Homo sapiens: one gene and its partners. The protein of the gene in region 2 interacts with the protein of the main gene of each other region in a biochemical or structural test. Each region holds a gene or a part of one and is shown on either strand. Other genes may lie near its edges. The genes, in order: TTC24, GOPC, USH1C, NRXN3, TECPR2, CLCN3 and RSRC2.

Region 1 (4,085 bases), on a different chromosome or scaffold from region 2:
GCTCAGGAGTTTGAGACCATCCTGGGCAACATATCAAAACCCCATCTCTATAATAATAATAATAATAATAATAATAATAATAATAATTATTATTATTATTATTATTAGCCAGGTGTGGTGGCACATGCCTGTGGTCCCAGCTACTTGGGAGGCTGAGGTGGGAAGATCGCTTGAGCCCAGGAGGTAGAGGCTGCAGTGAGCTGTGATCATCTAGGCACTTCAGCCTAGATGACAGAGCAAGATTCTGTCTCAAAAACAAACACACAAACAAAAAAAACAACTTGCAATCACACAGTGTAGTGGAAGGGACCCTAGGCTACTCACCTTGAATCAAAAAACCTAGAGTTGGCTGGGCGTGGTGGCTCATGCCTGTAATCCTAGCACTTTGGGAGGCAGAGGCAGGCAGATCACCTGAGGTCAGGAGTTCAAGACCAGCCTGGCCAACATGGGGAAACCCAGTCTATACAAAAATACAAAAATTAGCCAGGTGTGATGGCAGGCACCTGTAATCCCAGCTACTCAGGAGGCTGAGGCAGGAGAACGGCTTGAACCCAGGAGGCAGAGGTTGCAGTGAGCTGAGATTGCACCACTGCACTCCAGCCTAGGCAACACAGCAAGATTCCGTCTCAAAAAAAAAAAAAAAAAAAAAAGACGGGGTGCAGTGGCTCACACCTGTAATCCTAGCACTTTGGGAGGCCAAGGCAGCCAGATCACTTGAGGTCAGGAGTTCGAGACCAGCCTGGCCAACATGGTGAAACCCCTTCTCTACTAAAAATACAAAAATGAGCTGGTTGTGGTGGCGTGCACCTGTAATCCCAGCTCCTCAGGAGGCTGAGGCAGGAGAATCACTTGATCACTTGAGCCCGGGAGGCAGCGGTTGCAGTGAGCCGAGATGGCGCCACTGCACTCCAGCCTGGGTGATAGAGTGAGACTCCATCTCAAAAAAAAACATAGAGTCTAACCCCAGCTACGTGACTGCTCTGTGACCTTAGTTAAGTCACATCTGCTGTCTGAGGCTTGGTCCCTTCCTCTGTGAAATGAGGGGATGAAGTAGATGATTTCTGAGGGTGTAACTAGTAAGCGCCCCTCTGATGCCTTGATTCATTTCTTGAAGTGAGGGACTTGAGGGGGTGTGTCTGCAGCACTACCGAGGTTTAGCACTAAGATACGGCTTCAGAGCTGTCACTCAAATAATTCCCTACGACTGGAGGGTGGTACCTGGTTGTCTAGTAACCTCTAGGGCTTTGAGCTAACAGCTTGGGAGGTAACCCAAGCCAGAGGGGCCATTCCAGAGAGCCAGCTGCGGAGAAGACCCAAGGAGGTAAGGTGTCCTGCAGTGGGGATCCCCACACTGGATGGGGGTGGTCAGGAATGCCCTGGAGTGGAAGGCCTTGAAAAGGCAGGATTTCTGGGTGTTCTTAGAAGCAGGGGGAATTTCTTTTAAAAGAGACTGCTTTTCCTCTGCCTGCCCCTCCTAAAAAAGGGGAAAAAAAGGATAAAATGGGAGGGGTCAAGAGCCCAGGGCCTGGGTCTTTTCCACTCTTTTTCCCATCTCCTGGGAGGAGAGTTCATAAAAAGCTTTTGCCCTTCAAGGGGAAAAATACAAACAGGATATACAAGCTGCTGAGATGCTTGTATTCAGGTTTAAGAGGGCTCTGGAGACCAGAGCAGGAGGCTGGGGGCCTAGAACCAGCCAGCAGACAGAAAGCGGAAGAAATGGAGAGAGAGCTTCCCCTTGAGCTAGGGAAGGGGCAGTAAATGCATGTTCTGTCCCACACCACACTCCTTTTCAGAAAATCCTTCTCTCCTGGAGGTTCGCTCCTTGCCAATTCAGGAGCCTCCTCACCCTAGGGTCCCCAGTGCCTAGTGTGGTTCCTAGCACATAGCAGGGGCTCACTGAGTGCTTGTTGAACTGACCTGAACTACGTCTTGAGATTAGATAGCAGGAGTACCTAGATGATGAGTGAGGGGGGTGTCTGTGGAGGCACAGTGTGAAGGAAGTTATGGAGGAGAGGCCCTGCATATGCGGTTCCTTCATCTATTTATTTGCAGCTTTTTTTGAGACAGAGTTTCTCTGTCACCCAGGCTGGAGTGCAATGGCGCGATCTCAGCTCACTGCAACCTCCACCTCCCGGGTTCAAGCAATTCTCCTGCCTCAGCCTCCCGAGTAGCTGGGATTACAGGCGCCCGCCACCACGCCCGGCTAATTTTTGTATTTTTAGTAGAGACGGGGTTTTACCATGTTGGCCAGGCTGGTCTCTATCTCTTGACCTCGTGATCTGCCCACCTCAGCCTCCCAAAATGCTGGGATTACTGGTGTGAGCCATCGCACCTGGCCTATTTGTTCAATCCAAAAACACTCGTATGGTGGTAACATATACATAACATACAATTTACCATTTTAACCATTTTAAAATGTGCAGTTCAGTGGCATTAAGTACACTCACATTATTGTGCAATTAACACCACTATCCATCTCCAGAACTTTTTCATCTCCTTTCATAAACATTTATTGAGAATCTACTGTGTGCCAGACCCTGCAAGTTGCTCCAAATCTAGTAGTGGGGGGAAGACAATAAAGTCATCAGCTCTGACCCAGTGTGATAAATGCTATAAAAGACATAGGCATCAAGTGCTATGGGACCACAGGAGTACCCAGTTGGTTGAGAAGAAGGTGCGTTCTGAAGTAAGCTGTTACTTGACTTGAGTCTTGAAGGAGGACTAAGAATTAGTCAGGAAGTTAGAGTGAGAGTGGATATGGTGCCCAATGGGACAGAAGAAACAAAGTGAGAGATCAGAGAGCAATCCTTGAAACCCTGAGGGTCATGCTAGGGCAGGGGTAGAGCTGAATTGCCCTAAGGGGGTCCTGCTATCTAGAGGAAGCCAAGGCTGACATACTGAGCCCTCTGTTCCCCTTTGTCAGCCCTATGTCTTCCCCCAACCCTGAGGATGTGCCCCGGAGGCCAGAACCTGAGCCCTCAAGCTCCAATAAGAAAAAGAAGAAAAGAAAGTGGCTGCGGCAAGAAGCCAGCATCCAAGCCCTCACCAGGGCTGGCCATGGGGCCCTTCAGGCTGGCCAGAACCATGAAGCCTTGAACAACTTCCAGAGGGCCTTCCTTCTGGCCTCCAAGGCCCCACAAACCAGGGATACCCCTGTGCTCCAGGCCTGCGCCTTCAACCTGGGGGCTGCCTATGTGGAGACTGGGGACCCAGCCAGAGGCCTTGAGCTACTCCTGCGAGCCCACCCTGAAGAGAAGGCACAGGGCAGGCGACACGGCGACCAATGTTTCAATGTGGCTTTGGCCTACCATGCCCTCGGCGAGCTGCCTCAAGCTTTGGCCTGGTACCACAGGGCCCTGGGCCACTACCAGCCACAGGGTGACCAGGGAGAAGCCTGGGCAAAAATGGGAGCCTGCTACCAGGCTCTGGGACAGCCTGAGCTAGCAGCCCACTGCCTGCAGGAAGCAAGCCAGGCCTATGCTCAAGAGAGACAGCTGCGGGCCGCAGCCCTGGCACTGGGGGCTGCGGCAGGATGTATGCTGAAGAGTGGGCGGCATCGGGTGGGGGAAGTTGTGCAGGTGCTGGAGAAAAGCCGGAGGCTTGCCGAGAGGAGCACTGAGAGGCGACTGCTGGGTGAGACCTTCGGGCAGGGAAGGCATGGGATCTGGGGAGACACAGAGCCTGATGATACTCAGAGGGCTGGGTTTGGGGAACCCTGGAGGAGTCGATAGGGGCTGTACCAGCCTCATTTATATCTGGTCTGGCTACCAGTGACCCTGGCTATTCCCTCTAGGGCACCTCTATAACGATCTAGGCCTGGGCTACTCCCAGCTCCAGCTGTTCCCGCTGGCCGTGGAGGCCTTCCTGCAGGCCCTGCCCCTGTGCTGGGTGCCAGGAGAGCAGGCCACAGTGCTAAGAAACCTCGGGATGGCCCACAATGCCCTCGGCAACTATCAGGAAGCTCGGGAGTTTCACCAGAAGGCTGCTGACCTACACGGTGGGTGCCTGGGGCCGGGGAATGGGACTGGGACTAAGACACTAAGAAGGGGTTCCAAAAGGGGCCCAAGGCTTAAGGGTGGATGGCC
Region 2 (3,409 bases):
AACTTGGACTACAATGTAATCCTAAGGGAGTTTGGCAAGACCATCGTGGAGTGCTCCAGCTAAAGTTGAGGAGTCATCATATAATATCCCTGTCATAATCAGTCACTGACTGGCAGCAGCATGGAGGAGCATAGCCTCACCATGTACACAGGGATGGATTTCAGACCACAGCAGCTGGACCTTCAGTAAGCTATGCTCCCTCCTGCACGAGAACTGACAGATGCATTCTCATGGCTGCTGCCGTGGTGATTATAGCTCTCAAATCACACCTGAAAAAGGTTCATTATTGAACAAATATTCAGCACCAACAGTGCACGGTAATTTGCAATACTTTTAAAGTGTTTCTTTAAGGTTAGTTATAAAACCACCTAAAATAAAATACTGATTAACAATGAAAATACAAGTTCTCTTTAAAATTTCATAAACTGACCAAAAAAAAATTCATAAATTGACCAATATCCTATGGGGTTGTATTCTGGGGAAAAGACTTCTTTTCAAATCACTTGGTGAATTGGGAGCTTAAATCAACACACGGAAAGCATATATGTATTAGCACTAAATCAAGGTTAGTCAGTGACAAAAATGTATTTCTAATGTTCATAACATTTCTAAATGTTCATAACTCAAGTAATTCATTTACAAGTATTTTCCAAAAATTATTTTACATATAACTTAGGAACTTCTAAATCATATATACTTAGATGTCAAAATGGAAGAATACCCTTTTAAATAGTATCTTAAAAACAGGATTGATTTTCTAACTTTCATCAATGTTTTCCTCATAGATAACAACAGCTGGCAATATTTATAACACAAAATTAAGCCAAGTCCTTTGCACAGACTTTATGACATGTTGGTACAAATAATAGAACTACTAGAAATAAATAACAAGCCAAAATATTTAACGTCAAGGAAACAAAATGTTTATTTAAAAAAATGAGATCAATATCATTTTAATGTAGAAGATGCCATCTTTATTTACAGGCTAATAAAAAAATATTAAACTCAACTAGATATAATACATTATCATAAATGCAATAGATTTGAGGCCAACCATAAGTGTAAGACTGGATAGATGGAATAGGGATTACATAATCAGGATGTCAAATACTGTGCATCTTACACATGAATCACATGAAACCTTTTTGTTTCTAAACATGAAAACAGCATAAGTCCACTGCAGTGGGGAAAAAAACAGCACCACAGACAAGCTGTGCTAACTTTCGATAGCTGTTGACTTGTAATTATCAAGACTCACAAAATTTTCGTCTTTCTCAAATTTATTTTAACAATAGTCTCACCACCAAAATGTTGCTTTTCCATCATATTCATAACAGAGATACTGTAGAAGAGAATTTTAGAGGTTAAGTGTAAATATATACACGCACACATACAACCCTCACATTTTATTAAAACGTTTTCTCAACCATTCTGTTTGTGTATACATGTGTGTATTTCTCCTTCTGTCCCCTTCTCGATGAAATGGCTTTGCAACAGTTCCCTCCTTACTTGTTTGGTTTTGTCCTAGAAGTTTCAGGGACATATGAATTTCTTTCCTATAAATGTGAAAATATTAAAATTGGTTCTCAGTCCTTTGGAACTAATAACTAATTCTTAGTTCATCCCCAAAAACCATACATTCTAAAATGAACTTTTAACTAGTTACTTTCTAACACCGGACAGGAAGCTCACAGTAGCATCTGAGCAACGGTGCTCTCCCGTAGGCTTATAAACCACAGTGAAGCAGGAATGAAAAGGAAACTGACCTGTGGAGTTTTAAACTACCTGGAAACTTTTCATTCTATTTATCAGTCCTTAAAAGGAATTTATATCATGACAATCTCACACAATTCTTCAAATTACACAGTGACCTCATAAAAATTCCAACTTGAAGTTTTAAAAAACCACCTCTTCATACACTTATTCGGTAGTTCTTGAAAATCAAAGGGTTATAGCTTACATTTCCTAAGGATTCAGTCATAGCAGATAAAGGATGTTCTCTGAAAAAAATGCCATGGCCATTCCATCCCAGGCTGTGTTTTAAGAAGATAAGAATAACATGGTTTCATGTCACAGCAAAAAGGTTTTCGGGTCTGCTACAATGGACAATTTTTTTGACTAAATAAATACGGTGGCTAAAATCCAGTTTGCAGATCTCATGTCATGCATGGAAGGTATGTGTTTGGCATAGGGGATTCATAAAGAAAAAACAAGTTGTTTTTTTTCTTTTAAGAGGCCTACCCTGTCAAGAGCAAACAATAACATGTAACTTGCTTATTCATTTGTACAATTAAATACTAGCTTTTGCTCAGAGACAATGCTATAAAGTATTTTAATGTCAGTAACAATATACACTACGAAGTGCACTTCCATTACAAATTAACATGGTGATATACAGATGAACACCACCACCCAAAACAAACCATAAATGAGCAACAGTTAAAACATTAAATTTATAAATAGCAAAACCACAAAATAAAGTATATACATTTTATAGATTTACCCTTGAACAAATATATAGTGTATCTGGGAAAGCCAAAAAAAATGTGTTTTATCACATAACATCTGAATACCAGAAATGAAGATACTGATAATATTCTAAAAGCCTTGTAGGCTTTCTCCCACTTAATATTCCTTTAACTGTACGTCCTTTAAAACAGTGATATTAGCAAAGCTATCACCTCTTTAATGCAATGTTGTGACTTTGCCTAGCAGGTTACAATGACCTGCAGAATATTAAATCAGAGAGGAGGCACTCCATGTTTAATCATGGGACAACAGACCTAACAAATTTATAAACCTGCATATGAAGAGAGCTTTAGTCAAACATAAACTGACATGAAAACCCAACCAAAACAATTACTGTATCAAAATGTCTTTATCTCATCTTGCCCACCTTTTAGATGACTGGAAATCATTTACTTAGAAAGAAAACTGCCGTTTGATTTGAATGTACTGTGTTTCATGACATAGTAATAAATCTGAACTTTTACTACCAGAAAAATTTGTCTTTAAGTGCCAGGACTATCACAAGACAAACTTTATGAACAACTCAAAATGTATAAAACTGTCTTTTGTGGACCCCAGAAAACAAGCATTTGAGGCTCAACATGAATGGGTAAATGCTCCAGTACTGCGCACACAGATCAACATAATTGAGAACAGATGTTTTACACTCATCTGCATTTCTTTTAAAAAACAAAAAAAGTAAAATGTTTAGTAACTTTTGAGAATCTATTTCTAGTGCAGCATTGATTGATAAAAGACTGCTTAAAGAAAACTATTTTGTACTGCATTGAATAAAGCTGAAATGCAAACTCATTACAATAAATGATCATTAATAATTGGTTTAGATTTTAGGATGCACAATAAATTTTTTTAAGTCTAAAGCCTTTCAGTTACAAAAATT
Region 3 (4,537 bases), on a different chromosome or scaffold from region 2:
CTGGGTGACAGAGCAGGACCCTGTCTCAAGAAAATAATAATAATAATATAAAGATTCAGTGTCTTCTATTTCCACCTTGGCAGTAAATCCCTCTGGGGCTCAAGGTTCCCAGGCCTTTGGCCCCACAGAATTTGTGCCAGGGCATGAAGGATTCATGATTCTGACTAAGCCCTTTCATCAGAATTGCTTGAGTCACTCACACAGACCAGCCCTACTTGCAGGAGCCCACCGTCTGGCAGGGAAGGCAGATTCACACACAGCTAAGTAACCTGTGTGGGGCCAGTCTGAGATCAGTGGGAAATGCCATGGGGCAACTTGCCCTCTGCATCTGTACAGATATGACTTTCTTGGGCATGAGACAGAAACTGTCTACTACCCCACCCAGAAGCCCTGACTCTATAATCTTAGCACTGGTAGTTTTTTTTTTCTTTCTTTCTTTCTTTTTTTAAGCAACAGAATGGCCATTATTCTCGTGGTGGTCCTGGAGGAGGCCAGGCTCTTACTCTAGCAAGCTACCATTAGGCAGTGTTTCTGGCTCCTCTTGGGAAATTGCTGTCTGAATCTCTACTACGATGGCAGGGATTCATCTATCAACTGAGTCTAGTGAACAAGGTAGGCAAGGAACCAAGCAGGACTCTGAAGCAGTGAGAACCATTTTCTCGAGAGGCTCATACACTGCTCTGGAGGTGGGTCCCAGAGGTGACCATTTCCAGAGCACATTAGCAGTACACAGAGGTGTGTGTCTTTAGGAGAGGAGCTAGGAAGAGTCCCTCAGAGGTCCATAATGGCCCACCAAGTCCCTCCAGCTGTGGATGAATGTTGTGTGTCCATTGCTAGGGAGCTCAATTCCTTATTCCTGGCCTTGGATACTAAGATGATTCAGAAAATTCAAGAGCAGATCCCCAGAAGGCTTGTTGGGGGCGGGGGTGAGCTCAGTGAACAGGGGGTTTCCTCCTTGCCCCAGAAATTGCCCAGGGTGTGGGCTGTCTCTGCTGCCCCTCTCCTGAATGCTCGCTCTGTCCTCCACGCTGTGTGTGATAGGGGCTGACCCTCCCTCCTGCCGTGTTTCCCTTGCCCCCAGCTCATCAGGGCACCATAGAAAAACTAGGACCTCGAAGACTCAGGTCCAAATCCTGGTACTATCAGTTACAAGATGTCTGACATTGAACAAGGGACTTTACCTCTCTGAGCCTCAGCTCCTTCATCAAAGAATGAGGATAAACCTACATAGGAGATCATTGGTATAAATCCCTTGGCACATAGGCAGTTCATAAATGATCATTCTCTTCCTGCCTTAGCCCCTGGCTTCCCTGCAACCCCATGAGAGAAGCAGCCAGGAATGCAGGCTCGGTGGGTCTAATTCCTACAGGAAAAATAAGGAGTCTATTTGCCTTTCATGTCCCTCCCCAAATCCTCTAGAACCCTGATGGTGAGTGTAAAGCAGTTAAGCCATTCTCTCCATGCCCTGCCTCCCAGTCCTGCAGTTTCCAGCTAGCCCTCGGTAGAGGGGCACAATTCAGAGGAAACTGTGGGTCTAGACTCTCCAGGGTGAAATGGTCCAGAGCTTAAGCATGCGGGTAAAATCTGATGTCCCTGGGTCTGAGCCCCCAGGTCTCAGTGTGACTCCTATCACTTCTAGCTTAGGACGGGACCTCTACAGATGAAGCTTGCCAGCCCTCCCAGATTTTCTCTGGAATCTCCCAGGATGCATCTCTGAATCTGAACATGAGATGATGCAGAAGGCATGTGCCAGATACTGGAAAATCAGCACAATGCCCTTTATTTATATGGCACTTATTTATTTTTTTATTTTATTTTTTATTTATACAGAACTTTTACAAAGTTCTTTCATGGATGTTATTTCATTGGCACTGGGTGGCAAGCCTGTGGGGGAGGTATTTTTACCATTTTGGAGATGAGGCAAATCAGGCCCAGAGAGGTTAAGGAACTTAGCCAAGGCCACACAGCTAGTTAGTGAACTAATAAGCCAGTCTTTCTGGCTGGTAAAGAGAATGTGTCTCCCACTCTGCAGTAGGTAGCAGTGGCCTTCCTGTCCTAAACCTGAGGTCTGATGTCCAGAGTGGTGAGAGAGCTGGGGGAGGGGCTCACCATGGGATGGTTGTGTTATGTGAGGACTGGATGCCCCGTGTGCTGTGCTGTCGACACTATTTCTAACCTTTGTCATATAAACAATGCCACATCTACTCAGAAAGGAAAAGATAAGAAGAAAGCCAAGTATGGCAGCCTGCAGGACTTGAGAAAGAATAAGAAAGAACTGGAGTTTGAGCAAAAGCTTTACAAAGAGAAAGAGGAAATGCTGGAGAAGGAAAAGCAGCTAAAGATCAACCGGCTGGCCCAGGAGGTATGTGTCCTGCCTGCAGGCCAGGCAAGCAACCCTGGGACACAATGTGGTCGTTCTCCATGTGCTCCCAGAGGACCAGCTGGAGTTGTTCTCCTCAAATGGCATACAAGGGTGGAGTGAGCCCTTTCCTGCTCCCCAGCCTGGAGAGAGAGATCATGCCACCTGCCCAGGGCCATCTGAGGTTAGCTCCTGGCTTAGGAATTGAAACTAATCTCCTTGCTTGGGGGTGTGAGTCTTGCTCCTGGCTTTGGAATTGAAACTAGCCTCCTTGGTCGGGGGGTGTGAGTCTGAGGTTAGCCTTTCTGACCAGATGGTAGGTCTCAGGTTAGCCTTTGATACACCTGGCTTAGAGATTTGAGTCTGTCCTCTTCACTCTACCCCACCAGAGTCTAAGGCTGGGCCTCTCCATCTCAGGTGTGGCTCTGAGGCTACTTAGAGTATGGTCTGCGGCTAACCCTTCTGCCTTGCTTGTAGCTTTGAAGTTAGGCTTCCACTGACCTGTCTACGAGTCTGAATCACTCTGGCCTCCCTTCCCAGGTTATTGTAAGACCAGACCCCCCCCCACCCAACTTAGCTTGGCTCTGAGAATATGGGTCTGAGGCTAACCCCCTTATGCAGGTGGTAGGTGCGAGGTTATCTCCCAATTAATCAGGCTATCAGTCTAAGGCTGCTCCCCTCAACATAGGGTGTGTCTAAGGCTAGACCTCATCAACCTGGGAATATATCTGAGGCTGTCCCCATGAAGACATGTCCAAAGCAACCTTACACCATGAATAATTCCTATGCTAGGTGAGATGGGTAACCTTAACTCCCCAGCTGTAGGAGGTATCATTGTTTCTGCTTCTCTTTAACGCATCCATGAATCAGAATGCCAATTTGATTAGATTATAAAACCAGAGAAGTCCTGGAAAATGTGAAATGCATTAGGTCTGACATTATGAACAAATTAGCCACAAAATTAAAAATAAGATTGAACTTATGCTTCTGAGGGCAAGGCAGAATGGAGCAGGAAAAAAAAGAGTCAAGTTAAACTCTTGGAATGTGCTGGGGGAGGCTACAAAAACTCCATTCTTGGAAAATCATAAGAGCCTCAGGGTTCATGGGGATCTGGGATCCAGCTAATCCCTCACAATACATAAGCCCCTTTTCTGATTTTGCCTACAAGTTCTGCTTAGTGAATTTGACACCCCGCCACTCTCTTCTCCCTTGCTGCTGCCTCCTTGAGGGCCAGTTGGAACAAGCCCAGGTCTCTTTCTAGATAGCTGATGCACCTCACAGTACTCTGGAGTTTCTAAAGGAGTGCTTTCATGCTATTTCTATCCACATGTTATTCAAATGTGCCCTTTGTCCTCTCCTTTCTGCGCCGATCCTGGGTCCCAGGTGTCTGAGACAGAGCGGGAAGACCTTGAAGAATCGGAAAAGATTCAATATTGGGTGGAGAGGCTCTGTCAAACGCGCCTCGAGCAGATTTCCTCTGCTGATAATGAGATTTCAGAGGTAACAGAGCCCTTCTTTCCACATAGACCCTCCTGCTGTCTTCAGAATGACCCACTGTGGGGACAGCGGGAGGTGAGATGACAACTAGCAAACGTCACTAGCCTCACAGTGCCCATCCACTGTCCAGGCCCACCCCTACCACCCCACTCCCCTCTTGAGGAGGAGGGATATGTCTGTATTTCTGGGTATACTCCCAGAGTGATCTCTAAGTCCCAGCTCATCTGCGATAGTCTCAGTTAGGCCTGTTGTCCTGGCATCATGACTAAGAGTCCCCCTTACACTCTCAAGGGCATTCCAGTTTAGAGAATGAACTCTGTGAACACCTTACCACCCACAGATGGCATAACTTGGGGCTCTTCTGCATTTGGGCACTCCCTAACAGCAGCCTAGTATGGCCTCAGCTGGGCATCCAGGTGGCAGAGGAATGGCGCCCCATGGTTCTGATGTAAGGGTGGTGGGTCTCCAGTAGCAAGAGAAACAGATTAGAAGAGCATAGTGCTCGCTGTATTGTGAAGTGGAGCTCTAAGCAGAGTGACAATTACAGAACTTCCTTGCAACACCCCCAGATGACCACAGGGCCCCCGCCTCCCCCGCCTTCTGTGTCTCCCCTGGCCCCACCCTTGAGACGCTTCGCAGGCGGACTGCACCTGCACACCACTGACCTGGACGACATCCCTT
Region 4 (4,537 bases), on a different chromosome or scaffold from region 2:
AGGGTATATAACCTGAAGGGCTGCGAAGATCAGACGTGATCAAGAATGAAACATACACTTTAAAGTACAAAGTCGGCTGGGTGTGGTGGCTCACGCCTGTAATCCCAGCACTTTGGGAGGCTGAGGCGGGCAGATCACTTGAGGTCAGGAGTTCAAGACCAACCTGGCCAACATGGTGAAACCCCATCTTTACTAAAAATACAAAAATTAGCCAGGTGTGGTGGCAGGCACCTGTAATCCCAGCTACTCGAGAGGTTGAGGCAGGAGAATTCCTTGGACCCGGGAGGTGGGGATTGCAGAGAGCTGAGATCGTGCCACTGCACTCCAAGCTGGGTGGCAGAGTGAGACTAGCTCTCAAGAAATTTAATTAATTAATTAACTAAAGTTAAAAACAATAAATAAAGTGCAAAGTCAACACAAGAGTAGAAGCATAGAAAGGATATTAAGGGGAATTTAACAATCTGCTTCACTACTCCCTCCTAGAAGTTTACTCCTAGAGAAATATGCTTTGCCTTTTGTTTTTCAATCTTTCAAACACTTATATAACAACAATAATGTCCTGGCTACCATTTTAACTATTTTATGTGCATTTTTGGACTTGATCCTCAAAACAATATTGGGAGGTAGGAGTTATTATTTTCTCTATCTTACAAAGGAGGAAGTTGAGGTCTCTATCTCTTACTATTTTCTCTGTTGCATAGTTTTCTTTCTTTACCCCTCACAGGTCCACAGGGCTAATCTGATCACCAACTAAAATGGGGAGACATCTATTGCCAAGTAAAGACAATACTAGAATCAATTTAAATTTTAGAGCCTTAAATACAACCTGAGGAAAATCTGTTCTCTGAATGTGTGACCATAACAGTTTTGAATGCACTTAACAAGTTCTAAGACTGACTTGCCCAAGTGAGGAGTGATCATAAAAGTTTTTCTAGATCACTGTTTGTTATATTATTCTTCAAGATTATCAGGGAAGGAGGCACCACATTTAGATACACTTGTTTTTATAACTATCCTTTAGTATAGATTTATAATCTAAAACAAGTTACCAGAAAACATTCTCATGAAAAAATGAAAGTTTAACAGACTGTATTAAAATTTTAGATTATACTGCTTTCATGGGACAATTGTTTGTTTACTCAGTAAGTTTTTAATAGGCTTTGATCAAATTCATCAGTAGTTCAAAAAACTGGCCAGGCCTGGCACAGTGGCTTACTCCTGTAATCCCAGCACTTTGGGAGGCCGAGATGGGTTGATCATCTGAGGTCAGGAGTTCGAGATTGGCCTGGCCAACATGGTGAAACCCTGTCTCTACTAAATAGACAAAAATTAGCTGGGCTTGGTGGAGGGTGCCTGTAATCCCAGCTACTTGGGAGGTAAGGCAGGAGAATCACTTGAACCTGGAAGGTAGAGTTTGCAGTGAGCCGAGACTGCGCCATTGCACTCCAGCCTGGGCAGCAAGAGAGAAACTCTGTCTCAAAAAAAAAAAAAAAAAAAAAAAAGAGAAAAGAATTAGCCAGTGCTTTAGCTCCCAGGTATGAAATTTAAGACTTCTGAAATTCAAACATATTTGTTGAAGTTGGGTCCACTGGTGGTTTAAACAACAAAAACTGTTCCCCTTTGTTCAAAATTGTTTGAAAGAAAAATTTGTATTAGGAACAGACAGAAATGAACAAATGGCAATTTTGTGTGTTTTAGCCTGCCTGAGACACGGGTAAGGTAACTTTTATGCTGTGCCAAGGTCTAGGTTAGTCAGACACAAAACCCGTCCACCGTGACCTAACCTCAGAGATCCCAAACACATGCTCTTAAAAACCAACAGCAGTGTTTTCTTTATAATTCTGGAACAGCTTTCTGACTCTGCTCTTGCTGTCATTTTACTGAAAAGCAGAGAAGGAGAAAGAAAAGAAGAAGAAGAAGTATGGGGGGTGTGGCGGGATTTAGCCTCCAAAGAAATTAATTTTTTGGGTGTTTTTCTGTGTAAAAGGGTAGACACTATTCATTCTTGCTTAACGAGCACATTTAATTTGAAGGCTCTTGGTTCTGATCAGATTTCAGACAACCAGTAAAGATTCCTACTGGGCAATAAAATAGCCAGGGCTGCAATCTGCCACCCATCTGCCCTCTGCAAAGAACCCATCCAGCTCTTCCTAAGGGCAATATTGCTATCTCTGCCGTCAGCCTAGCTTTGGAATTATGCAGAAAAGCCAACCCACCAAAGCTCAGTCACTCCCAGTTTCAGCCTTTTGGGGAACTTATTGCTCTCTCTTACTGGCCAAATGTACCTAGAAAGAAAATATCCAAATAGAGACTTTTTAATGTTCATCAGGAAAGTGAATCTCTATAAATATGGCACATGAAGCCAAGACCCTTCTTGAGTACATCCTACCTAAATGGAGAATCAGGAAATGAGTCTGAAATGGCAAATGCTCTAATTACTGCTCTTGGGAAAATGCCCTTTCTGATAGCACAGAATGTGACCTTCATTGCCACATGGTCCATAGAAAGCTAGGCAGACTGTCCAGGCATTCAAAAACCCCTGACTATTTTGCCCCACCCCCACCCCCACTTTGTTACTATTCCATAGTAGCTATGTACTGCCTGGGGCTAGCTTGTTTGATCTGCAGCTGCAGAAACAAAGCCATTTAAACAAAATGTAAAAGGTTATGAAGAGGAAGAGAGAGTTAGTGAGGTCTGAACAAAGAGTGAAATATAGGCTTTTACACCAAAGGAAGGCTTTAAATTGAATGTATCTTCAGGAAAAATCAATTTGCCTTTTCCTTTCTTGTCATAATTTCTCCATGCAACATGACTCTTGCCAATTACTGAAGGGTGTATTGTTGCATAAATTCTTGCACAGTGAAGTTTATCCTACAAAATAATCACATAATGCAGCATCTGTGATGTCACAATCGGTTTCCATGGTGATGAGGAAAAAGAGAAGCAAAGAATGGGGCAATGGGGGCGGATCACACCAGTGACATGAGAGTTGCTCTGGTAGCAGTGGAAATGCTACTTGTAAAACCATCCTTAGCTCCAGGATCGTAGAGCTATCACTGAGACAATTGCGCAGTGAGTGACAAGAGAGATAAGCGGAGAATGTGAGCCATCTATGAGACAGGTATCTTTTCAGAAACATAATTTTACAACAGCCATTAAAGAGAGTAGCAAAAGAATCAACAAGCATGCAAGGGTGAAAATTAAGAAACATAAAGCCAAAAAACAAACTGAGAAGCTACAGCTTTCGTCTAGTCTCAGTCACACATCCTGCCTCTTCCTACCTGATCTGCCATCTCGCTGAATGTCCACATGGTACCATTCCCCATCATTGGCTTTCTTCTGAGTGGCTTTCACTTTGATGGTGCCAGAGCCCATGTCAAGCAGCAAGTACAGGTTGCCATCGAGGAGTTCCACGGCAAAGAAGTCTACTTTTGTATTCTTCTGGCTCCGAGCATCCTTCCTCTCTTGGGGCTTTCCATGAGTGAAGAGGATCAGGCCATTGGGCTCTGTGGTGCGGAAGTCAAAGGAGATGGAGCCCATACGTTTAGTGTTCCACTTGGGCAAGCTGATGTAAGCCTCTGGGGTCTCAAAGTTGATGGGGTCCAGTGTGGCCACATTCTCACACTTAAACACAACTTCGCCATAGATTTTCATCTTGGTGTCCGCAATCCGGGCCAGGCGAGACAGCTCCAGACGGATGTCATTATTCTTATAAACAACCTGTCAAAAGCCAAACAAAAGTGCCATGTGAATCAATCTTGCAAACAGTATCCATCCATCACTCACTGGGCACCTGGAAAAATGACCCAAAAAGAGGCTTCAGGACATAGCCCAAAACAACATGAGAAACAATGAGACACAGGAACCAAAAAGGTATCTGAAGAAACATCTGATGTGCACACAAGCTCCAAAAAAGCCTCTATATTTCTACAGAATTTCTTTTGTCTCCTGGCCAATTTCTTGTGTTGTCAGAAAGTTATACAACATAAGCTTGCAAATAAAAATCAAGAGAGATCGAGTTGCATGGATTCACATACTTCATACAAAGTGATTTACTGAAGCACCCTTAGTAAAATACCAGAAACAACCTAAATGACCATCAATAGCAGATGGCACAGCGTTATAATGGAATATTAGGCAGGCCTTGCAAACAAGGTATTGCTTTTGGTTTTGATGTGGAAGCTCTCCAGGTCACATTGTTAAGTGAAATTGTCAAGGAACAGGATAGAGGGTGCATTATGTTATCATTGTGTAAAAGTGTGGGGGCGTGGGGGCATTATATGTATATATGCTCCAGTAAGCATAAAGTCTCTTTGGAACTATAAAATTGTCATTGGGGAGTATATTTGCGGGATTAATATTCTGGAGTGGGAGGGTGACTTACTTTTCACTGTGCCCTCTTACAGTGTTAGACTTTTTTTCAACCATGTGGATATATTACTTGAAAGAAAAGAGTAAGTGTTAAAAGCTGGTGGGGACAGAGGTCTGTTTTTGTTTTTATTTTTTGCACATTGCATGTGCCCTCTGTACAGTGGTA
Region 5 (4,537 bases), on a different chromosome or scaffold from region 2:
AGGCAGAGGTTCCAGTGAACCAAGATTGTGCCATTGCACTCCAGCCTGGGCAACAAGAGCGAAACTCTGTCTCAAAAAAAAAAAAGTTATTCCTCAGCCAGGCACAGTGGCTCACATCTGTAATCCCAGTACTTTGGGAGGTTGAGGTGGGCAGATCACTTGAGCCCAAGGGTTTGTTTGTTTGCTTGTTTGTTTATTTATTTTTTTGAGACAGAGTCTCACTCTGTCGCCCAGGCTGGAGTACAGTGATGCGATCTCGGCTCACTGCAAGCTCCGCCTCCCGGGTTCATGCCATTCTGCCTCAGCCTCCTGAGTAGCTGGGACTACAGGCACCTGCCACCACGCCTGGCTAATTTTTTGTTTTTTTGTTTTTTTGTTTTTTTTAGTAGAGACGGGGTTTCACCGTGTTAGCCAGGATGGTCTCAATCTCCTGATCTTGTGATCCACCCGCCTCGGCCTCCCAAAGTGCTGGGATTACAGGCGTGAGCCACTGCACTTGGCCGAGCCCAGGGGTTTGACATCAGCCTGGGCAACATGACAAAACTCTGTCTCTACAAAAAATACAAAAAAGTAGCCAGGTGTGGTGGTGCGTGCCTGTAGTACCATCTACTCAGGAGGCTGAGGCACAAGAATCAATTGAGCCCGGAGGATCGACTGAACCTGGAGGATCCATTGAGCCCGGGAGTTCGAGGCTGCAGTGAGCCATGATCAAGCCACTGCACTCCAGCCTAGGTGACAGAGCAAGACCCCATCTCAAATCAATCGATCAATAAAACTTTTTTAAAAATAAAAATATTTTTCCTCATAGTAGCTCTGTCAAATGATGACATTTAGCTTTCAAGAATCCATCCGCTTGATTTGATGCTATCCACTGACAGCTCGCAGGCTCTACACAAGAAGGGCTTTGAGACTGCAGTCTAGCTAGAAGGGAGTCAAGAGATTTGCCTCAAAAGTGCATTTGCAGAGCAAGTGCACTATTCTACTCAGATAATATGTTTATTTGTGGTGGCTTAGGAGGTCTTAGTGGGTATTACAAAAGGTCAGAATCCCTGACCATCTCCTTGGCACACTCAGTGATAATCCTACCAAAAGCAACTTCAGAACCCAGGGAGGGAGCGCAGGGCTGCCCTTGCTAGGCTCCAGCAGGTATTAGAAACTGTCACAATTGTCCGGCAGGTAACAGCATAATCACATTTTGAATCAAAAGTGTTGTTCAAGCTGAAATCCTAGTATTCACCCTCAATTCCTCTGTTTCCCTCACCCGTACAACAATCTCTCAACTCAGTCCATCAGCCCTATCTCCAAGCCTCCCTCAAGCCTGGCGCCTCCTCACCAACTCTGTGGCCATGCCACAGTACAAGCTATCATATCCCTCGCCTACACTGCTGCCATGGTCTTCCACACCTGCCCCCAGAAGCCAGGCTCATTCAGCCATCAAAATTAGCTCTTTGACTTCACTGAAATGAAAAACGCTTGTGCTCCAAAGGGCACCATCAAGAAAGTAAAAATACATCTAATCCACACCACCGACAAAAATAAAAAAAAAAAACCCACAAAATGGAAGAAAATATCTCCTGGTTATATATCTGATAAAGAGATTTTACCCAGAATATATAAAGAGCTCTTATAACTCAATAATAAAAAGACAATTTTAAAAGCTGGGTGCAGTGGCACGTGGCTATAGTCTCAGCTACTTGGGAGGCTGGGGTGGGAAGATCGATTGAACCCAGGAATTTGAGACCAGCCTGATCAACACAGCAAGACTTCATCTCAAAACAACAACAAAAGACAATTTTACAATGGGCAAAGTCTAAGAAACATTTCTCCAAAGAAGACACACAAATGCCCAGTAAGGCCAGGCACGGTGGCTCACATCTGTAATCCCAGCACTTTGGGAGGCCAACGCAGGTGGATCACCTGAGGTTGGGAGTTCAAGACCAGCCTGGCCAACATGGTGAAACCCTGTCTCTACCAAAAACACAAAAATTAGGTGGGCATAGTGGCGCACATCTGTAATCCCAGCTACTCAGGAGGCCGAAGGAACAAGAATCACCTGAACCCGAGAGGTGGAGGTTGTAGTGAGCCAAGATCGCACCACTGCACTCCAGCCTGGGCAACAGAGCGAGACTTTATTTCCAAAAAAAAAAAAAAAAAAAAAAAAAAAAAAGGCCAATAAGCACATAAAAAGATGTTCAGCACCATTACTCATCAGGGAAATGCAAATCGAAACCACAAGGAGATACCACTTCATACCCACTAGGGTATGAACAAGTGTTAGCAAGGATGTGGAAAAAACTGTATACATTGCTGGTGAAAAATAAAATGGTGCAGCCACCAGTGGGCAGTTCTTCAAAAGGTTACAGAGTTACCATGTGACCCAGAAGTTCTATTCCTAGGTTTATGCCCAATAGAAATGATAACATATCTACAAAGAATTTGTAGATAAATGTTCATAATATCACCACTCATAATAGCCAAAATGTCAAAACAACCTAACTGTCCATCAACTGATGAATGGACAAACAAAATGTGATCTATCCACACAATGGAAGCCTGTTCAGCAATAAAAAGGAATGAAGTACTGATTCATGCTACAACACGGAGGAATCCTGAGAATATTATGCTAAGTGAAAGCAACCAGGCACAAAACACCATATATTATATGATTCCATGTATACAAAATGTCTAGAATAGGCAAGCTGTAGGCAGAGTAGGTCAGTGGTTGCCCAGGGCTGGGAGAAGAAGGGGTTAGGGTGTATTGCTGAAGGGTACGGAGTTTCCTTTTAGGGTGATGAGAAAGTTCTAAAATTGACGTAGTGACGGTTGCATAGCTGTGAATACAGTAAAAACCATTGAATTGTATATAAATGGGTGAACTGTGTGGCATGTAAATTATATCTCAATAAAGCTGTTACCCCCCAAAAAACAAAGGAAAATATCAGCTCCTTCAAAGAGAAATCAGACCATACTACCCATTCTACTCAAAACTCCTCACTGGTTGCCCAGTGCTCTAAGAATAAAAACCAAATGCCCCGTGTGGTCTAAGCCCTTTGCAGCTCCCCTGTCACCTCTCTACCCGTCTCCACTTGTCCTCCAAGTTCTAGCTCCACTGACCCACTCTGTCCCACTCAGGTGTCATAATTATTTCCTCTATGCAGAATAAATGATCTCACTCCATTTATCTGGCTTCTTCTCAACTGTGGGGTCTCAGCTTAAATATCACCACCACAGAAAGGCCTTCTCTGACCAGATCACTCAAGAGTACCCAACTGTCCCTTCTTTCCTCTATCATATGTGCTTCATAATCCTCATTACAACCTCTAATTGCTTTATTTGCTAAACCATTTAAAAATCATCTCTCCTACAAGAATGTAAGCAACATGAATTCTCTCTTGCTTACCAAGGTAAATCCTAGTATCTAATAATAGCTTTGGCACAGAGTAGATGCTCAGTAAAGATTTGTTAACTTCAGGTCTTACTGCAAAACAATAGTCTCAATCCAATTTTTAAAATTGGGCTGGGCATGATGGCTCACGCCTGTAATCCCAGCACTTTGGGAGGCCGAGGTGGGAGGATTGCTTGAGGCCAGGAGTTCGAGACCAGTCTGGCCAACATGGCGAAACCCATCTCTACTAAAAAATACAAAAATTAGCCAGGTGTGGTGGCGCACACCTGTAATCCCAGCTACTTGGGAGGCTGAGGCAGGAGAATCACTTGAACCTGGGAGGTGGAGGCTGCAGTGAACCAAGATCGTGCCACTGCACTCCAGCCTGGGTGACAGAGTGATATTTCATCTCAAAAATAAATAAATAAATAAAAATATAATGAATAATGCTTCCTTAGTCATGACTATTTCAGTTAAAAAAATACAAAACACCACCCTATGGCATCCTTCAAGTTACGATGCTTCCTTTCCCCACTAGCCCTGTCAATCTCATAACCCTGGAAGGTGGCAGCTAGCCTTCACTGCTGACTACTAACACCCAACTGCCACCCAGATGGATGATTTCTCAAACTGGAGCTAGGACTAATATAGAGTCTAAGTCATCCACTTCGCTGTACAATAACCATGTTATCAGAGTGCTCTGGGTACACTAATGGTTTCAGGATTCTCTCCAAAATCCCTAGGAAGCAACAATTTGTATCCCTATTGTAGAATCTATGTTTGAAATCTGGCTACGACATCTATTAATTATTTGAGTATTAAATTATTAAGGAGGAACGTAATGAGACTGAGGCAGTCATTTATCTTCCAGACAAAATTTTGTCACTTCCTTGCTCCCATCCCCATTGGCTACCCAATGGTCACAAGCTAAAGCCTAACACAAGCATGGAAATTAGACACTATGACAAAACAGTCTATATCTAACTTCATCTCAGGCCACTCTTCCATCCACACACTGTGCACTCCCTACCCTTTAGCAATCACCCCTCTACACGCTTCTTCTCTCAGCCCTGGGCAACCACTGATCTCCTCTCTGTCTACAGTTCGCCTATTCTGGAGATTTCATCAAAATTGAATCATATAATATGTGGT
Region 6 (4,537 bases), on a different chromosome or scaffold from region 2:
ATTAGAGAAATGGAAATCAAAACCACAATGAAACACCATCTCACACCAGTCAGGATGGCTATTATTAAAAAGCCAAAAAACAACAGATGCTGGCAAGGCTATGGAATGCTTATACACTGTCAGTGGGAATGTAAATTGGCTCAGCCCCTGTGGAAAGCAGTTTGGAGATTTATCAAAGAACTTAAAACAGAAATACCATTTGACCCAGCAATGCCATTACTGGGTATATACCCAAAAGAAAATAAATTGTTCTACATAAAAGACACATGTGCTTATATGTTCATCACAGCACTACCCACAATAGCAAAAACACAGAATCAACCTAGGTGCTCATCAATAGTGGACTGGATAAAGAAAATATGGTACAGGCTGGGTGCGGTGGCTCACGCCTGTAATCCCAGCACTTTGGGAGGCCAAGGCTGGCGGATCACCTGAGGTCAGAAGTTCAAGACCAACCTGGCCAACATGGTGAAACCCTGTACTAAAAAAATACAAAAATTAGCCGGGAGTGATGGCAGGTGTCTGTAATTCCAGCTACTCGGGAGGCTGAGGCAGGAGAATTGCTTGAACCTAGAAGGCAGAGTTTGCAGTGAGCCAAGATCGTGCCACTGCACTCCAGCCTGGGCGACAGAACAAGACTCTGTCTCAAAAAAAAATAAAAATAAAAAAAGGAAAGAAAAGAAAATATGGTACATATACACCATGGAACACTACACAGCCATAAAAAGAATAAAATCAAGTCCTTTGCAGCAATGGGGATGCTGCTGGAGACCATTATCCTAAGTGAATTAACACAGTAACAGAAAACCAAATACAGCATGTTCTCATTTTAAGTGGGAGCTTTAACATCAGGTACTCACAGATGTACAGATGGCAACAATAGTCACTGAGGACTACCAGCGCGGGCAATGTAGGGAAGGAAGCAAGGGCTGAAAAACTGTTGAGCACTATACCCACTTCCTGGGTAATGGGTACAACTGTACCCCAAACCGCAGCATCATGCTGTATACCCATGGAATAAACCTGCACATCTAAAATAAAAGTTGAAATTGTAAAAATAAAAAAGAATTAACTCTCCTACTCATTTTTCTTACAAGGTCTTACATCAAGTATCCCTTTATTTAACAAACTCTTAACCAGAGCTTACTATATGCTAGGCAATATCTTAAGCCCTTTACAAATTCATTCATTTAATATTCATATTAAATATATGACAACCTTAAAGAATAGGTGCTATTATTGTCCCCACTAAAAATGAGGAACTGAGGCACAAAGCATGTAAATAACTCGCCCAAAGTCATGCAGTTAGTAAGCAAAGCTTCGCTGACCCACTTACTATCTGGATCAAATTTTCTCATTATTAGTTCTTATAGCTCTCTTTTACAGCACTTACCACAGTTGAATATTAAATTTATTTCTGTGATTATTTAATATCTGTCTGCCATTGTAGAACGTGTCATGAGGTCTGACACTCAATTTTTGCTCAACACTGTATACTCAATGGTTAGCAAAATATGTCACATTAGACCAGGCGCAGTGGCTCACAGCTGTAATCTCGGCACTTTAAGAGGCCCAGGAGGGCAGATCACCTGAGGTCAGGAGTTCAAGACCAGCATGGCCAACATGGTGAAACCCCGTCTCTACTAAAAATACAAAAATTAGCCGGGCATAGTGGTGAGTGCCTGTAATCCCAGCTACTCAGGAGGCCGAGGCAGAAGAATCACTTGAGCCCAGGAGGCAGAGGTTGCAGTGAGCTGAGATCACACCACTCACTGCACTCCAGCCTGGGCAACTGAGCAAGATCTGCCTCAAAAAAAAAAAATGTGTCACAGTAGATGTTCAATTTTTTTAATTAAATTTTTATTTTGAGATAATTGTGGTTCCACATGTAGTTACAATAAATAATACAGAAAAAAATCCTGTATATCTTTTACCCAGTTTCCATTAATGGGAACATCTCGCAAAACTATAGTACAATATCACAATCAAGATAAGGACATTGATACAGTCAAGATACAGAATATTCCATCACCACAGGTATCTCTCATGTTGCCGTTTTATGGCCATCCCTCCTTAACCCCTAGCAACCCATAGTCTGTTTTCTACTTCAATAATTTTGCCAGTTCAAGAATGTTATATAAATGATATGATATGGGGATTAACTCTTTGTTCTCAGCACAATTCTCTGGAGATTCATCCAGGGTGTTACATGTGTCAATAGTTCCTTCCTTTTTATCAGAGTAGTCTATGATAACAGATATGCCACAGTTTGTTTAACCATTCACCCACTGAAGAACATCTGGCTTGTTTCTATGTTTTGGTGACTATGAATAAAGCTGCTACAAACATGCATGTACAGGTTTTTGAAAATGAATAGCCTTTATTTCTTTGGGCTAAATGTCAGAGTACAATAGTTGGGTCATACAGTAGTCACATATTTGTTTTTTAAAGAAACTGCCAAATTGTTTTCCAGAGTGGCTGTACCATTGTACATTTCTACCAACAATGTATGAGTGATCCAGTTTCTTGACCTCGTTGCCAGCATTTGGTGTTGTCACTATTTCTTATTTTAGCTATTCTGATAGATGTACGGTAGTATCTTGTTGCTTTAATCTGCATCTCCCTAATGGGTAATGATGCTGAACATTTTTTATGTGCTCATTTGCTATATGTGTAATCCTCTTCAGTGAAATGACTATGTCTTTTGTCCGTTTTCTAGCTGGACTGCTTTCATACTGTTGACTTTTAAGAGTTCTTTATATATTACAGATACTAGTTATTTGTCAGTTGTGTTGTCTGCAAATATTTTCTCCCCTCTCTAGTTTATCTTTTCATCTTTTTAACAGGGTCTATAACAGAGCAAAAATACTTAATTTTGATGAAGTTTAATTTATCAATTTTGCCTTTAAGGAGTATTCTTTTGGTGGCAAGTCAAAGAAACATATGCCTAACCCTACCTCCCCAAAATTTTCTTCTATTTTTCCTAAAATTTTATAGTTTAATATTTTTATATTTCAGTCTGTGATCCATTTTAATTTGTGCATGCACAGGGTATGAGACATAGGTTGAGGTTCCTTTATTGGGGGGTTGGGAATGGGACAGTGTATGGATGTCTAATTGCTCCAGTACCAACTGTTGAAAAAGTTATCTACCTCCGTTGAACTGTTTTCATGCTTTTGACAAAAACTAGGTATATTTATGTGGATCTATTTCAGAGTTCTCTGTTCTGTTCCACGGATCTGTGTCTTTATCTATGCCCATACCACACAGTCTTGATTACTGTAACTACATAATAAGTCTTGAAATTGAGTAGATTGATCTTTCACACCTTATTCTTCTTTTTCATTGCCTTTTCATGTAAATTTTAGAATAATCTTGTCCATATCTAAAAAAAATCTTGTTGGGTTAATTATATTGTATGAATAAATAACAAATGTATAAGAAATAAATGGTACATGTCTTCCTTGATGTTGTAAAAGAGCTAAAACTCAACAAGACCTAAACTAAATAAATATTTGCCCCAAAAGTCCTTGTCCTCCTACTTTTCCTATCTCAGTTTACAGGATCACCATTTATCTAGTATTCAAAGCTAGTTTTTGGAGTCATTTATTAATTTATTTGATAATCATTGACTGCACACTTAGCATGTACCAGGCACAAAGCCAGATGCTAGGGTAATGAATAAGATATGGTTTCTGTTCCTAAGGCAGTGAAGGTGACAGACATCAACAAGTAACAACAATATGGTATGATACACATCACAGGAGAGGTACATACAATGTATTTGATAAACCTGAGAAAAGTAAGCAAGCTGGCTGGCACACAGTCCGTAAGCACTTAATAGAGGGAATATTTTAGCAAAATATTGAAGAATTAGGATAAATTAATTGGGCTGTGAGGTAAAAAGTCAATACAGGCACACACACAAAAAAAGTATGCGCAACAGCATAAAAGCATCATAGTAAAACCTGCTTGGGTAGCTTATGTAAGAGGTAAAGGACCAGAGAGTAGCTACAGAGGCAGACATAGGCCAGATCATGAAGGGGAGGGGTTCATGTGTCACACTAAGAAACTTACATACTCATCTATACACAGGGGAAACCATGAAGAACTTTAGAGAAATCACATGATCAGACATGAATTTTAGTAAGCCAACACTAGCAGCAGTGTGAAAGCCAGATAAGAAGGGTAAGAGACTGAAGGACTACAGATAGAGAAGCTGGAGATGAGACTAGACGTCTGAACAATTCTAAACGTAAGATAGGGCATAACTGAATTAAGAGTGATATGATATATATTGGTTTTCATCCATGGTTCCTGGTTTATAAGTCCCACAGCTCTTATTACATTCTTTTTTAATATTAAATTTAATTTTATATAAGTAGAGACAGGATTTCACTATGTTGGCCAGGCTGGTCTCGAACTCCTGGCCTCAAGTGATCCGCCCACATCGGCCTTCCAAAGTGATGGGATTACAGAGGTAAGCCACTGTGCCTGGCCTTACTACAGTCTTTTGTATAATGTTGGGGCACATTAA
Region 7 (4,528 bases), on a different chromosome or scaffold from region 2:
TCATCATGACAGATCTTGTTGTTGTTGTTACGGAGTCTCGCTCCATCGCCCAGGCTGGAGTGCAGTGGCGTGATCTCAGCTTACTGCAACCTCTGCCTCTTGGATTTAAGCGATTCTCCGCCTCAGCCTCCCCTGTAGCTGGGACTACAGGTGTGCACCACCACATCTAGCTAATTTTTGTATTTTTAGTAGAGACGGGGTTTCACCGTGTTGAACCAGGATGGTGTCGATCTCTTGACCTGGTGATCGTCCTTCTTGGCCTCCCGAAGTGCTGGGATTACAGGCATGAGCCACCACGCCCGGCCCCAGATGTCTTTTACGATTTTGGAAATGTAGTTTATGCAAGAAAGTGAACTGATCTGAAATATGTATTTCTCTTTCAAGAAATCAAGTTTTTATGCGTAACAAACATTGCAGATTTCAAAAATTATCAGGCCTGGCTCAGTGACTCACTTCTGTAATCCCAGCACTTTGGGAGGCCAAGGCAGGTGGGTCACCTGAGGTCAGTAGTTCAAGACCAGCCTGGCCAACATGGCAAAACCCCATCTCTGCTAAAAATACAAAAATTAGCCAGGCGTGGTTGTGTGTGCCTATAGTCCCAGCTACTCAGGAGGCTTGAACTCGGGAGGTAGAGGTTGCAGTGAGCCAACATCACGCCATTGCACTCTAGCCTGGGTGACAGAGTGAGACCCTGTCTCACGAAAAAGAAAAAAACAAAAACAAAAAACAAAAAATTATCACGAAGAGCTTACTGTTGATTTGGTATGAAATTTAATCTGGAAGATGGTTTTTTGTTGTTTTTTACATTTTTGGTAAACAGTGGCACTTATTTGAAACTCTAAAAGTTTACAAATAGCCATTTTATTTTTACTACATCATTACTCTCTTTGGTAACTCTGGTTCCCATAATGTTGGTAATTTAAGTACTTTTTAAGGTTATATTCTGGACTGACAAAAATAGGTAATCAGAGGTGTCTTTTTTTACAGAGGACTGCTCAATCACAGTGGAAATACCAGGGCTTTATTGAACTTGGACTTAGCATAATACCTGCATACTGTTGTTGTTTTTGGGTTTTTTTTTGTTTTTGTTTTTGTTTTTTTTTTTGAGACGGAGGCTCATACTGTCGCCTGTGCTGGAGTACAGTGGCACAATCCTGACTCACAACAACCTCCACCTCTCGGGTTCAAGTGATTCTCCTGCCTCAGCCTCCTGAGTACCTGGGCTTATAGGCGCCTGCCACCACGCCTGGCTAATTTTTTTGTAGTTTTTATTTGAGACGGGGTTTCACTATGTTGGCCAGGCTGGTCTCGAACTCCTGACCTTGTGATCCGCCTGTCTTGGCCTCCTAAAGTGCTGGGATTACAGACGTGAGCCACTGCGCCCAGCCTTAGCTGCATACTGTTTTTCAAGTATATGATGTGAGCATCAAATGAAATGTCCATGAGAACATTTCATAAATTTAAAAAAATACAAGGTTTTATTGTTTTGTAATTATACCTTAGAAACACTATAGTTCATCTCCACTGAAATCATACTTTCTTACTATTTGCAGAATTCTCTATCCTCAAAGTAAATAAATGGGTTTTTTTTTTGTTTTGATACGGAGTTTCGCTCTTGTTGCCCAGGCTGGAGTGCAGTGGCATGATCTCGACTCACTGCAACCTTCGCCTTTTGGGTTCAAGTGATTCTCCTGCGTCAGCCTCCCGAGTAGCTGAGATTACGGGCATGTACCACCACGCCCGGCTAATTTTGTATTTTTGGTAGAGACGGGGTTTCTCCATGTTGGTCAGGCTGGTCTCGAACTCCCAACCTCAGGTGATCCGCCCACCTCAGCCTCCCAAAGTGCTGGGATTACAGGCGTGAGCCACTGCGCCTTGCAATAAATGGTTTATATATCAAGGGTTTATGTAGAAATATGTCCGTTGATGAACACAATAAATGTTTGCTAAAAACTTGTGAGCTAATACTCAGTCATTTCCTTGGATTTGGTGAAAATCCTGCCTTTTTGCACATTCATAGCTTTTTATAAATCGTTCGTTAATGTAAATCAGGAGGTTTATGTTTTAAAATCGTTTTAAAATCCATTTTTGTATTCTCTTCAAGCAGCTGCAGCTACTGGAGGTTCTGTTCTCAATGTTGCTGCCCTGTTGGCATCAGGAACACAAGTAACACCTCAGATAGCCATGGCAGCTCAGATGGCAGCCCTGCAAGCTAAAGCTTTGGCAGAGACAGGAATAGCTGTTCCTAGCTACTATAACCCAGCCGCTGTTAATCCAATGAAATTTGCTGAACAAGAGAAAAAAAGGAAAATGCTTTGGCAGGGCAAGAAAGAAGGGGTAAGTTCTCTTATTCTGCTTTTCTGTCGTTTATTCCTAATTAGTAATTGCTTAGAAAAACAAATTTGGGTTGAAAAATATTACTTTCGGCTTAACTTTGTAAGAACCTGGGGTGGCCAGACGCGGGTGGCTTATGCCTTTAATCCCAGCACTTTGGGATGCCAAGTGAGCGGATCAGTTGAGGTAAGGAGTCCAAGACCAGCCTGGCCAACATGGCAAAACCCTGTCTCTACTGAAAAGAAGATAAAAATCAGCTGGGTGTGGTGGCACACACCTGTAATCCCAGGTGCTTGGGAGGCTGAGGCAGGAGAATCGCTTGAGCCTGGGATGCAGAGCCTACATACAGTGAGCCAAGATCATGCCACTTAGCCAGGCATGGTGGTGGGCACCTGTAATCCCAGCTACTTGGGAGGCTGAAACAGGAGAATCACTTGATCCTGGGAGGCGGAGGTTGCAGTGAGTTTCCAGCGAAACTCCATCTGGAAAAAAAAAAAAAAAATCACGCCACTGCACTTCAGCCTGGGTGAGACCCTGTCTCAAAAAACTTATAATAAGCTATGATAGTCTTATTTGCCAGTTATTAATACTAAAATAAAACATAATTGATTGAAGTCAAGCTTTCAAAGAAAACTAATATTACCATAGAAGTAGTAAGGAAAAGAGGCTACTTGGTTTAGAATTTTTCATAGATTATGAGGTACTTTTTTTTTTTTGACATTATTTGCAATGACAAATGACATTAAATGCAAATGACATGCAGTCGCAAAAATTGCATGTTGAAAAAGGTCTATGACAGGAAAATAATCCATTTTTTTATTTTATTTTTATTATTTTTGAGACAGAGTCTTGCTCTTGTCACCCAGGCTGGAATGCAGTGGTGTGATCTCAGCTCACTGCAACCTCTGCCTCCCAGGTTCAAGCAATTCTCCTGCCTCAGACTCCTGAGACCCTCCTGGGTCTACAGGTGCCCACCACCATGCCAGGCTAGTTTTTTGTATTTTTAGTAGAGACGGGGTTTCACCTAGTCATCCAGGCTAGTCTCGATCCCCTGACCTCAGGTGATTTGCCCACCTCGGCCTTCCAAAGTGCTGGGATTATAGGAGTGAAGCACGGCGCCAACCTCTTGCTTGTATTTCTTTGCTTTGTGGTTTCTTAAGTCTTGAAATAATTAAACTTACATTGATTGAATGCTATCCATGGTGTTTTTTTTTTTAATTTAGACATTGTTGAGAGATTTCATGTCCTAAAAAATATTTAAATTTTACATATTTTAAAGTTCAGTGTTTGTTAACAGGACAAATCCCAATCTGCTGAAATATGGGAAAAATTGAATTTTGGAAACAAGGACCAAAATGTCAAATTTAGGAAATTGATGGGTATTAAGGTGAGTTTCACATGTGCCAGGGGATCTTTGTATTAGCTATTAGCCCTCCTGCACTGTTCTTCCCTCATTTTCTTAGTTCTGGTCTTTACTCAGGTGTCAGCGTTTTTGAGTTCTTTCCCACCACCTTTTGTGAAATAACAAGCAATCCCATTCTGAAACATTTCCATCTCCCCTACCCACTGTCCTCCCTACACACACACTTGGAGAGAGAGAGAGAGACGGGGTTTTGCTCTGCTTGCTCTGTCACTTGGGCTGGAGTACAGTGGTGCAGTCATACCTCACTGCAGCCTTAAACTTCGAGGCTCAAGCAGTCCTTCCACCTCGGCCTCTCAAAGCCCTGGATCACAGTTCTGAGCCACTGCGCCCAGCCTCCATCCCCATTTTCTACTTTACTTTCCTCTGTGGCATTTATACCCTGACATCTTCTACATATTATGTTTTTTCCAACCTACTAAACTGAAGTTAACTTTTGTTACACCCTGCTATATTCCAGACCTAGAAAGAACATTGCCTTGTCCTTTGGAGGTGTTCAATAATGAATGGAAATTAAGTTATTGAGATCAAATACATATCCCAAAAGTATATTTTTGTTTGTTTGTTTTTTGTTTTTAGTATAGACGGGGTTTCACCATGTTGGCCAGGCTAGTCTCGAAATCCTGACCTCAGGTGATCCACCCGTCTCAGCCTCCCAAAGTGCTGGGATTACAGGCGTGAGCCACACTGCACCCGGCCAAAAGTATAATTTAATAGTGTCAGCCTAGTTCACACCTGTAATCCCAACACTTCGGGAGGCCGGGGGGCAGGCGG

Evidence for each region.
Region 1: the proteins of GOPC (region 2) and TTC24 interact in a test that uses a peptide from one of them, tested with the Homo sapiens proteins (one large-scale study listed by IntAct).
Region 3: the proteins of GOPC (region 2) and USH1C interact in a test that uses a peptide from one of them, tested with the Homo sapiens proteins (one large-scale study listed by IntAct).
Region 4: the proteins of GOPC (region 2) and NRXN3 interact in a test that uses a peptide from one of them, tested with the Homo sapiens proteins (one large-scale study listed by IntAct).
Region 5: the proteins of GOPC (region 2) and TECPR2 interact in a test that uses a peptide from one of them, tested with the Homo sapiens proteins (one large-scale study listed by IntAct).
Region 6: the proteins of GOPC (region 2) and CLCN3 form a complex in vitro, tested with the Homo sapiens proteins (one study listed by BioGRID).
Region 7: the proteins of GOPC (region 2) and RSRC2 interact in a test that uses a peptide from one of them, tested with the Homo sapiens proteins (one large-scale study listed by IntAct).

The regions. Positions count from the first base shown.
Region 1 is NC_000001.11:156,578,438-156,582,522, forward strand, and holds the start of TTC24 (tetratricopeptide repeat protein 24), read left to right. Parts: upstream 1-1,285; 5' UTR 1,286-1,321; intron 1,322-2,923; 5' UTR 2,924-2,927; coding exon 2,928-3,633; intron 3,634-3,793; coding exon 3,794-3,997; intron 3,998-4,085.
Region 2 is NC_000006.12:117,559,369-117,562,777, forward strand, and holds the end of GOPC (Golgi-associated PDZ and coiled-coil motif-containing protein), read right to left. Parts: 3' UTR 901-3,409; downstream 1-900.
Region 3 is NC_000011.10:17,509,727-17,514,263, reverse strand, and holds part of USH1C (harmonin), read left to right. Parts: intron 1-2,209; coding exon 2,210-2,362; intron 2,363-3,742; coding exon 3,743-3,859; intron 3,860-4,425; coding exon 4,426-4,537. UniProt on the Homo sapiens protein: Anchoring/scaffolding protein that is a part of the functional network formed by USH1C, USH1G, CDH23 and MYO7A that mediates mechanotransduction in cochlear hair cells. Required for normal development and maintenance of cochlear hair cell bundles.
Region 4 is NC_000014.9:78,708,400-78,712,936, reverse strand, and holds part of NRXN3 (neurexin 3), read right to left. Parts: intron 4,156-4,537; exon of another isoform or gene 3,721-4,155; coding exon 3,282-3,720; exon of another isoform or gene 2,977-3,281; intron 1-2,976. UniProt on the Homo sapiens protein: Neuronal cell surface protein that may be involved in cell recognition and cell adhesion. May mediate intracellular signaling. Functions as part of a trans-synaptic complex by binding to cerebellins and postsynaptic GRID1.
Region 5 is NC_000014.9:102,365,625-102,370,161, reverse strand, and holds part of TECPR2 (tectonin beta-propeller repeat-containing protein 2), read right to left. Parts: intron 419-4,537; exon of another isoform or gene 387-418; intron 1-386. UniProt on the Homo sapiens protein: Probably plays a role as positive regulator of autophagy.
Region 6 is NC_000004.12:169,626,659-169,631,195, reverse strand, and holds part of CLCN3 (H(+)/Cl(-) exchange transporter 3), read right to left. Parts: intron 1-4,537.
Region 7 is NC_000012.12:122,506,027-122,510,554, reverse strand, and holds part of RSRC2 (arginine/serine-rich coiled-coil protein 2), read left to right. Parts: intron 1-2,104; coding exon of another isoform or gene 2,105-2,107; coding exon 2,108-2,337; intron 2,338-3,631; coding exon 3,632-3,721; intron 3,722-4,528.